Regions from separate parts of the Homo sapiens genome. Here region 2 is linked to region 1. Evidence: fine-mapped expression QTL. Tissue or cell type: whole blood. Region 1 holds a variant in brackets; the other region holds the start of a gene. All regions are shown on one strand. Distances are from middle to middle.

Evidence for each region. PIP is the estimated chance that this variant, and not a neighbour inherited with it, causes the effect.
Region 2: it holds the start of FAM3D, and the variant in region 1 is the best candidate, but not a certain one, in a credible set for the expression of FAM3D in whole blood (TOPMed, PIP 0.75).

Annotation. Positions count from the first base shown.
Region 1 is chr3:58,702,563-58,707,711 of GRCh38, forward strand. It overlaps LOC105377109 (a long non-coding RNA gene), which reads left to right. Exons shown (of 3, transcript XR_940879.3): 3 at 3,360-3,522. Among named protein-coding and RNA genes, the nearest start is that of FAM3D, 38 kb to the left of the region's middle. The variant C/A (reference allele first, on the strand shown) is at 2,400.
Region 2 is chr3:58,664,408-58,669,556 of GRCh38, forward strand. FAM3D (FAM3 metabolism regulating signaling molecule D) reads right to left here and starts at 2,367. Exons shown (of 10, transcript NM_138805.3): 1 at 2,169-2,367. LOC105377109 (a long non-coding RNA gene) reads left to right here and starts at 226. Exons shown (of 3, transcript XR_940879.3): 1 at 226-526; 2 at 3,146-3,501.

The DNA.
Region 1 (5,149 bases):
GACACTTCTGTAAAAAATTTAACTTGCTGAGAAAAAGAAACTGAAGGAAGAAATAGTCCATTTATCTACCCCATACACACATTGTTTTTTTTTATAAAAATGGTTGTCAATGATTGAAAGAGTGAGAAAGTGAACAGACCCTGTCTTAGTTTGTTTGGGTTTCTATAGCAAAGTACCATAACTGGGGAGCTTATGAGCAACAGAAAATTATTTCTCACAGTTCTGGAGGCTGGAAAAGTCCAAGATCAAGAGGCCAGCAGATTCAGTGTCTGGTGAGAGACCATATTCTGGTTCATAGATGGCACCTTCTTGCTGTGTCCTCACACGGCGGAAGAGATAAGAGGTCTTTCTTGGGCCTCTTTTGTAAGGGCTCTAATCCCATTCTTGAGGGCTCTGCCCTAATGACCTAATTATTTCCCAAAGCCCCCCCATCCCATTCCCCCAGCCTTGGGGTTTAGAATTTCAACCTATGAATTTTGGAAAAACACAAACATTCAGACCATAGCAAATGCTTTCAGTTTTTCAAGGATCTTCCACCATAAGTATCCTGCTTCATTTTTAAAATCACCCTGAGAAATGGAGAAAATATAGTCTGGTTGATTCACACTCAGGTCCTGGAGTTAAACAGAATCCTGTCTTTGCCATTAGCTAGCTGCGGTGATGTGAAACAAGTTAATTTACCTCTCTGATCCTCTGTTTCTTTATCAATAAAATAAGAACAATAAGATTCCCTATTTCATGGAGCTTACTTTGTGGTTGCCCTGTGAAGAGGGCAGGATCAACGACCCCCAACCCCGAATTGGTTCAAATATTGAAATTGATGATGTCACAAGTGCACCAAAAGTGGAGGAAAATATTTTTTACTCAGTTCATGAGTCTTTTTGGGAGGGTTTGGGAGGCACCCAAGTTGGTCTGAAAATGGCTCAAAGTGGCAGTGCCTTTGGTTTTTATTGTGGTTAGAAGATGGGGCTGGGATTTGAGTTCCTACAATCACACACAGCTTGACTTTTGCACAGCTTGACTTTTCCCACTGGTGCCAAGGGAGGGAGTATTTGGGCTTTCTTATCAGCTTGCCCAGACTTGGGGCAAAGGGAACGGGAATGGTGGAAGCTTGAAAACTGTCAGCAGTCAAACATAAAAAATGACATCTATGATAGAGTTGTTATGAGAAAATATCTGCCTAAAGCACTGAGCTCAGTGCAGTGTTACAGTAAGTGGTTAATAAACAAATTATTAATGTCATGATTGATTTAATCATTTTCAGAAGCTTTTGCATCTATGACCTCATTTCCTCTGCATATTAACCCAAGAAATTGAGAGATCTGATCAGAAGTAGATCTGGTAAAATTAAAGCACTCAATGAGTGGTTGCTTCTGGCATCACTATCACCATTCCCATCATCACCATCATCATCAACTTTGTCATTATCACCATCACAATCATCACCACCACCACCACCATCATCACCAGCTTCATCATCAGCATCATCATAAGAATCAGATCATCACCACGATTACTTTTGCCACAATCATCATGAGCATCACCAACACCATGATTGCTATCACTACCACCAGTGTCCCATTGTTGTTACCATCATGATCATCATTATCACCATTGCCTTCATCACAATCTCCACCACCAGCATCATCACTAATATAAGATTTCTTTTAGATTATCCACCTTTTTGTGTAAAAAGTAAAGTAGAGGTTTCTCTTTTCTTCCCTGTCTAATTAGGTATAAATAGTAACTTCTCTTAGAAGCAAAATTTATTCAAAGACCTGTGCTAACATTCTTAGATATCTGCTAGCCATAATAAAGAAATCAATGTGCTTTGTGTTCTTAGCTCCCACAATTTAGCCTAAATATTTGCCCTGGCATGCTTATGCTGGTCCAAACAAGCATTAGGTCATAGCCTGTTCCTCTTCCTTATTTGGAGGGTTTTCACCTTTCCCAGCATTCCATAAGTTACTTCCTCCTTCCTTTGTTCTCCTCTGCCTTTGCCTCTTTAGAAAGTTCTAAGCTGCTAGCCAATCAGGACAAATACAGAATGTGAGGTTCCATTCCAGCCAATGGAAACCGGACACAGCAGTAGGGTGGACGTGTCAGGTTATAAATATCCATTTATATTTATATATATATGCTGGCCCACCAGCATCCATTCCTGCAGCAATTAGCTAAGACTGGAGGGTGGGCCATGTTCCCTTCAGGCCACCTTGCCCATTCATCATGGACTGAAAGAAAACTTCCTTTGAAAAGGGGTTGGGGGAGTTTCCCTGGAGGTGTTCAGGCAAGAAGGAAATGACCGTTAGAGGAAAAGATGGGCCTCTCTACTGTTGTTAATGGCTAAATAAATACACTGAAGTTGGCTCACAGCTGCAGTAACCACACCACCTGAGGAA[C/A]CTGTTGGCCACAATGGAGGCTCTGTCATATGTGTAATGCCTAGACACCCACATAGATAAGTCCCAAAAACGTGTTGCAATGAAAAAGAACACAGCCAACACCATCAAAAGTGCTTTCACAAATAACTCAGCTCCTTTATTTGTATGATTTTGAGTACTTTGATGATGACACTCTTCACTGATATTCTTGAAATCCTGTTTTATAAACCTGTGCCATTCACTCTCTCATGACCCAGTTCTCTACATCTACCTCTCTCCACACACACAAAACCAAAGCCTCCTTCAGCCTCCTCCCTGACTGCCTCCTGTTATCTTGCCTCCCTTTTCTTCTTCATTCTCTCATCATGAAAGCCAGAGAACCCATCTGGCTGGGCCAGGCACTTCTCAGAGGGTGGAGTCAGGAAATGGGTTGCGATGGTTAATTTTATGTGTTAAGTTGGATGGGTCACAGTGCCCAGATAATTGTTCAAACATTATTCTGGATGTTTCTGTGATGGTGTCTTTTTGGATTAGATTTACATTTAAATCGGTGGATCTTAAGTAAAGCAGATTACGCTCCCTAATGTGGATGGGCCTCTGGGCCTCATTTAGTCATTTGAAGGCTGTATGGAACAAAGACTGATTTCCCCTGCCCAAAAAGGATTCTGCCAGCAGACTGCCTTGGGTCTCACTGCAACTCTTCCCTGGACCTCCAGTCTGTGGTCTATCCTGGAGATTTTAGGCTTACCAGGCCTCCATAATAATGTAAGCCAGTTTCTGAAATTAAATCTCTCCCTCTATACACACATCCTGCTGCTTCTGCTTTTCTGGAGAGCCCTGACTAATTCATGGCCCAAGCCTGAATTCTCTTTTCTGGGCAGGGGACGAGGAAAGTCTGGTAATACATCTACAGTTAATTTTAATGACATCACAGGTAGAAAGATTCTGGAAACTGACTTTTTTTTTTTTTCCCCTCTGCAGGTGCAGATCATATTTTCTGCTTAGAGCAGATTCCTTCCTGGGCAGACATTGAGCACACAGCCAGCTGCAGTGGGCACCAGAGACATTGCGTCCTTTCTACTCTTCATGTCCTGATCCCAGTGATAATCTTTGAGGCCCCAGTCGGTGGTTCTTTTTTTTTTTTTTTTTTTGAGATGGAGTTTTGCTCTTTTGCCCAGGCTGGAGTGCAGTGGTGCGATCTCAGCTCACTGCAACCTCCACCCACCAGGTTTAAGTGATTCTCCTGCCTCAGCCTCCCGAGTACCTGGGATTATAGGCATCTGCCAGCATGTGCAGCTAATTTTTGTATTTTTGGTAGAGACAGGGTTTTGCCATGTTGGCCAGGCTGGTCTCAAACTCCTGGCCTCAGGTGATCCACCTGCCTCGGCCTCCCAAAGTGCTAGGATTACAGGCATGAGCCACCATGCCTGGCCCAGTAAGTGGTTTTTAATGAGGGTGATTTTGCCCCCTTTGGGTACATTTGGAATGTCTGGAGACATTTTTGATGATCATGCCTGGGAGGTGGATAGTGTTACCGGCATCTAGTGAGCAGAGGCCAGGGATGCTGCTATATATCCTAGTATAGGTACAAGCCCACTGCCACTCCCTAATGAAGAATTATCTAGCTCAAAATGTCAAAGGCACTTGAACCAGAGTGACTCCATCTTGAATAGGGACTCAGTAAAATGAGGCTGAGACCTGCTGGGCTGTATCCTCAGGAGGTTATGCATTTGTAGTCACAGGATGATAGGAGGTCACAAGATACAGGTCACAAAGATTCCACTGATAAAACAGGATGCAATAAAGAAGTCTGCCAAAATTTGCTAAAACCAAGATGGCAGCAAAAGTGATCTCTAGTCATTCTCACTGCTCATTATATGCTAATTATAATGCATTAACATGCTAAAAGACACTCCTACCAGCACCATGACAGTTTACAAATGCCACAGCAACATCCAGAAGTTACCCTATATGGCCTAAAAGGAAGAGGAACCCTTCATTCTGGGAAATCCCTGCCCCTTTCCTGGAAAACTCATGAATAATCCACTACTTATTTAGCATATAATCAAGAAATAACCATAAAATTAGCCAACCAGAAGCCCTCAGGGCTTTTCTGTCGATGGAGTAGTCATTCTTTTATTCTTTTGCTTTCTTAATAAACTTTCTTTCACTCTAGTCTGTGGACTTGCCCCAAATTCTTTCTTGTGTGAGATCCAAAACCCCTTTCTTGGGGTCTGGATCAGGTCCCCTTTCTGGTAACAAAAATGTCAATAGTGCTAAGGTTGAGAAACCCTAATTAAGGTAATTAAATAATAGATAAAAAAGACATTCCTTTCAATCCTACCTTCCAAAAAATGCACACACACTCTCTCTTTCCTTCTCTTTCTCTTTCTAAGATCACTTTGTAAGCTGAGAGAATTATGACAGAGACTGGAGCGACAGCATTTTATTTCACTGTATCTCTGTCCTTTAACACCTCAGTGCTCCCAGCCCCAGGCCTCTTGTGTCCCAGCATAAAATCTGTGAGATTTAAACATATACTATGAGATGCCTTATAAAACATACAGAATATGATCTGACAAGGTCCTTTGACAATGCCCTCTTTCGCACAAAATCTTCAGGCAGTAATTCAATTTCGAGGCTTTTCTCCTATTGAAATACGGTGTGTGACACTACCCAGGCCCTGGACTGCAGCACAATCTTCAGCACTGGGCATTTTTTTTCCTGGGTAATGGATTTTATTTCACCAAAAATAAGCATTAAAAGGCTTC
Region 2 (5,149 bases), 38 kb before region 1:
GTGTCTAATCATTTCTGAATGCCCAGTTCCATGCAGACTGCCTGGTGCATAGAAGGTGCACAGCTTGGACAACAGCACTGTCCTATATTGTGCACCTACTACGTGGCAAGCATCATGGTAGATGCTTTGCACACATTGTCTTTTTCAAAATGCACACTGTCAAATCCCAAAGAACTTATTACCGTCCTCATTCTTTTGAGATAAGGGAGGGTCAGACAAGCCAATAAGATAGGCAACTTGCCTAAGGTCACATGGTTGGAAAAAGGGCAGAACTGGGATTCAAATGCCAAAGGCAGGGTTGCTCTCCCCACAACCTCTATGTCTTTGTCTCCCCAGGCCACACCCTTGGGGGAGCAAACCTCTGAGCCTCCAGAAGCAAGGGATTGGCACCAACTGTAGGAAATGTCTGCTCCGCTCCAGGGCACCTGCCCTCTGGGACTGCAGGCTGGGTGGGGGCTGCCAGTCCCCCAGGCAGGCTTGTCGGCTGCCCACTTGAAGTCTCACCAGGACTGCCAGTAGTAGACAGGTAGGTCTCCTCCAAGGGGGAGCAGCTGCCCCAGCACCAGGAAATGTTGGCAAATGATGACTTCGAGCATCCCCCACCGCAGGGAAGTGCCAATGAGGAAGTTAGGCCCCTGGGTTCTGGAGGCTTCAACATTCCTATGGGAAGCAGCAGGGTCTGTGTGTAAAGATGGAGTTGAGCTCAGGAAGAGGTGTGCACACCATGGCCATAAGACAGAAGCCCCTAAACCTCCAGGTGCCCAAGGGCAGACAGGCAGATGCACAGATTTGGGCAGATGCTGAGCAATGGCAAACTCCTCCCTAGCCTGTGCAGACCTGGGCGCAACAACCTCACTGACTTCACCTTCCACCACCAGCTACTACCCCTTTCCTGCTTGAGCTGCTCTGCCCTCCTCTTTCTTTCCTCCTGTTCCCCCTTCTCAGAGATTCTCCACTGACCCAATCTTTTCCTCCCCTGCCCTTCACTCCTGAAGGACCCGGCATTCTCTTGGGAGAAGTCTGCCCTGACTCCCAGGCTATCTCCATGGTGTATGTCAAACTGTTTTGAAAATGACTATCTGTGCAAGTTTTCCCTTTCTGGTTAGAACCATGTATGATACCTCATCTTGTTAATCATTGTGTCTTTTTTACCTGACCCAATTAATGCTCACTGGATGAATCATCTAGAAGGACACTCTTGTACCCAGGCAGCCCACTTCCAGCCATGGACTCAGAATCCACTGCAGTGTAGAGTCAGTGTGGCATAGTGGGCAGGAGCAAAAGCTTTGCAGCCAGATTGCCTGGGGAAGTTATTAAATCTCTCACTGCCTTGGCTCTCCGTCTGCAGAGTGGGAATAATCATGGTGCTTTCCTTGTAGAGGTGATAGGAAGATTAAATGTGTTATTATATGGAGAGCACTTAGCACATCATACATGTTATTTTATGTACTTCAGTGATGATTATCATAGTTGCGTAGACAATGAGAACTTCAGCGATTGATGGGGGATATTCAGACTCTCTCTCCCATTTTACAGATGAGGAAACTGAGTCTTAGTGAAAGGGACTAGCTCAATATTACATAGCTAGAAAATCTCTCAAGTCCATGCACCTTTGTCATAACTTTTCAGATCATTACCTTATGAGAAAAATGAGATTTGGGGCCAAAGAACAACATTCCTTTCTTTTTTATTCATTTTTCAAATATTTGTGTGGCTCACTGTTGATCATTGGAATGTGTTTTTTTGAATCAATAGATGAGTGAATGAAAGAATAAATGTTGAGGGGCCCCTGTGGTTAAGGAAAAAACCCTGCAGTGTGGGTTATCAAATCCCTAGCTGGCATGCCCTACAGCTCCTTCTTGTGCCCATGGCAGACATAGCTAATCAATCATAGCATGCTTTTGCCTGAGCCCGAACCCAGCCCCAGAATCCTTTTTATCACAGTCTAATTTCATTGATCAGGCCTGGTGCCTCAGATGAAATCTATTTGCCTTCCTGAGTCTGATCTCAGGAATCTCTTCGATTATGTGGTTTCCTTCTTTCTTTCCTTTCATCATTCTGTCTCAGGCTCTTTCACTCCTATTTCCCACCCTCCCCACCTCCATTTTCCCCTCTGTCAATCATGTGTACCTGGAACCATAGCCCTTTCCATTCTTGGGGGGACGTACCCGAGGGCTCGAGGCTCCCACTTCCCTGCTTCGATGGAGAAGGCGAGGTGGTCCAGCAGGTGCCGTAGGTCCCTGACCCAGCTGACCACCACCCTGGGCCAGCTTCTGACAGTCCCACCTCCCAGTTGCTGGAGGGGTAGTGGCCTCACAGACGGCCCTCCTCTAGATGCAGTGGGCCCAGAGGGTGAGACGGAGTGTTGCGGGCCGCCAGTGGGCCAGCTGCTCCTGCCCTGCGCAGGCTCTGCCCCTCCTTTGAGGAAGTTTGCCATCAACTCTCCCTGCCCTGTTAAACAATCTCACAAGGAAGGAGGAAGTTTATTCTAAGTGCTCACGGGGCAGGAAATGAGTCTAAAGTCTTGCCTGGCTGAGGAGTGGCTTAGGGCCTGGCTGGGGCCTGGGGAGAAGGGCCATGCCTGTTCCCTTCCTGTAGAGCTATCCTGACCTTGGCAAGGGAGGTTTGGGTGGGAATTCAAGCAACTTAATCAGGAATGAGATACCACAATCTGCCTTCGAAAACAGCCAAAAAACCTTACAAAAAACCCGACCCTGTGCTAACAACCTCCCCAGGCGCTGGGAGGTGTGGGGCTGGTAGAGCGAGTAACTGCAGCTGATGATCACCTGCTTTGAGGTTCTGGACTAGAGTGTGGGGGGGTGCTGGAGGGGCTGACTGGAAAGAGGGGAACCCAGGCAAGAAACTCAGGACAGGAAAGATGGAGGAGGTCAAAGGCAACTGCAAGATATTGAGCTTGGATGATGGAAAAGGGAGGCTTCTTGGTCAAGAGTGAGGAAGATGGGGGAGAGGAAGTGGTTTGGGAAAAGATTCTGGATTTGGGTGGGGCATATTGAATTAGAGGTTAAAGGTGGAGGGGGTGGGGTGTGGAGAAAGGGAAAGACGGAGAAAGAAAAGAAGGGCTGCTCAGTGGCAGACTTTTAGTGAAATGGTGAATGCAGCCTTTGTCTCCCTTCTCTCTCCTTAGGACCCAAGGTGCACTGAGAGGGGCTCAGCTTCCCCCTCCCCTGATCCAGCACTCCCAGTCTTTGTCACAAATCATGGTCTCTTTCCCAAGCGCTTTCCTCTTAGGAGGAGTTCTTGCCTCGGTCCTTGGCACACAGGCTCCTGGCAACTTCCTCCCTTGTTTGCTGACTCTGAATGCTTCCGTAGGCTGTGTGGCCCACTTGGAAGGAATATTCAGGGGCATGAGGTCCAGCAGCTGGTCAGGAAATGAAGATGCATGCCCAGGGAGCTGGTGCAAGGGAAGAGCAGGGAGCGGACCCTGTGTGATGAGGTGCCGGGAGTGGCCCCAGTTCTGCTGTTCCAGCTGCCCATCCCCAGGTAGGCACGTGGGCCCCCTCAGGATGTATCCCAGGGCGAGGCAGTGCTTTCCTTCACTCTGACTGGCTTTAGGACTGGTCCTGTCCTCTGTCCCATCTCCTTGCCTCTTGCTCTCCCTTATTCTGCTAGGACGGTTCTGCCCATAACTGGTGCCTGGGTCTTGTTCAGACCTGACCTGCAGTGTCACTTCCTCAGGGGGGCCCTCCTGACCCTCACTTCCAATATAAATAAGCACACAAGTGTAGGGGAGTAAAAATGGCTTTCTCTACCCTTCTAGCTGCCTTGGCTGGTCAGGAATTAAACTGACAGCAGGGAGAATAACAGGAGAAAAGGTACAGACATTTATCACATGCATGGGGGCATCCCAGGAAAGAAAAGGAATTCCCCACACCCAGTAAGATTTAGAAGCTTGTATACCCTCTTCACAAGGGAGAGAGGGGTGGGGTGTCAGCACCGTAGTGGAGAGTAAATGATTTCTGGGGAAGAGGAGTGGGCCCTCAGCAGGACAGGTGACGACAGCCTGTGACAAAGGCTATCTGGACGTAGTGTGGACCTTTAGACTCCTGTGAAACGAGCCAGTCCTTCCGGCTGATGAGATTCCCTGGGCGGAGATTCATGGCCACTGCGTTTGCTCTGGACAATCTGTCTTTAGACAGAAAAGGAAAACTCGGAAAGCCCCTCCCTGCAGTTGCTGTTCCCCAAGTGACCTCAGTTCAAAGTCTCAAAGTGGCATATTTTGGGGAGTTACTTCGGAACTCCTTCACAAGCAAATCATTTAAAATTGAGACATTCTGTGAAAGAACCCATGAAAGTGATTCCAGGAGAACTTTCCTCAGCAGGTGGTCAGGGAAGGCCTCTCTGAGGAGGGGTGCTTTGAGGAGCTGCAGTAACAAACAAACACAGACCAGCAGCTTCATAACACAGCTGTGAAGCTAACCACTCTGGAGGGCAGGAGCTTGATATGGGTCTCACTGGGTTGGAATCACGGTGCTGGCAGGCTTGCATTCCTTTCTGGAGACTCCAGAAGAAACATTTTTTGTCTTTTCTAGTGCCTAGAAGCCACCTGCATTTCTTGGCTCATGGCCCCTTCCTCCATCTTCAAAGCCAGCAATGTTGGGTCTCCATGACAATTCTTCCTTCCTTACATCTCCCTCTAACTCTTTTATGCTTTCATCTTCCACTTTTAAGGACCCGGTGACAACACTGGGCCCACTTGGATAATCCAGGTTACTCTCCCTATCCTAAGGTCAGCTGATCGGCAACTCTAATTCCATTTGAGACCTTAATTCCCCTTTGCTCAGTTATGTTATATATTCGCATGCTCTGGGGATCAGGATGCAGACCTAATCCCATTAGGGGGCCAAGAGTCTGCTAATCACAGGTGCAATTTTGTTTCCTTTTCGTTATCGAACTTAACAGCCTGAAATGATATTTCCTGACTATTGTTTACTTGTCACCTGTCTCACTCTTCTGGAAAGCGAATCCCAAGAGGGCAGGGATCTTGCAGGTGCTGCTCATTCACCCCTGTAATCCCAGCACTTTGGGAGGCTGAGGCGGGCGGATCATGAGGTCAGGAGATTGAGACCATCCTGGCTAATACAGTGAAACCCCATCTCTACTAAAAATACAAAAAATTAGCCGGGCTTGG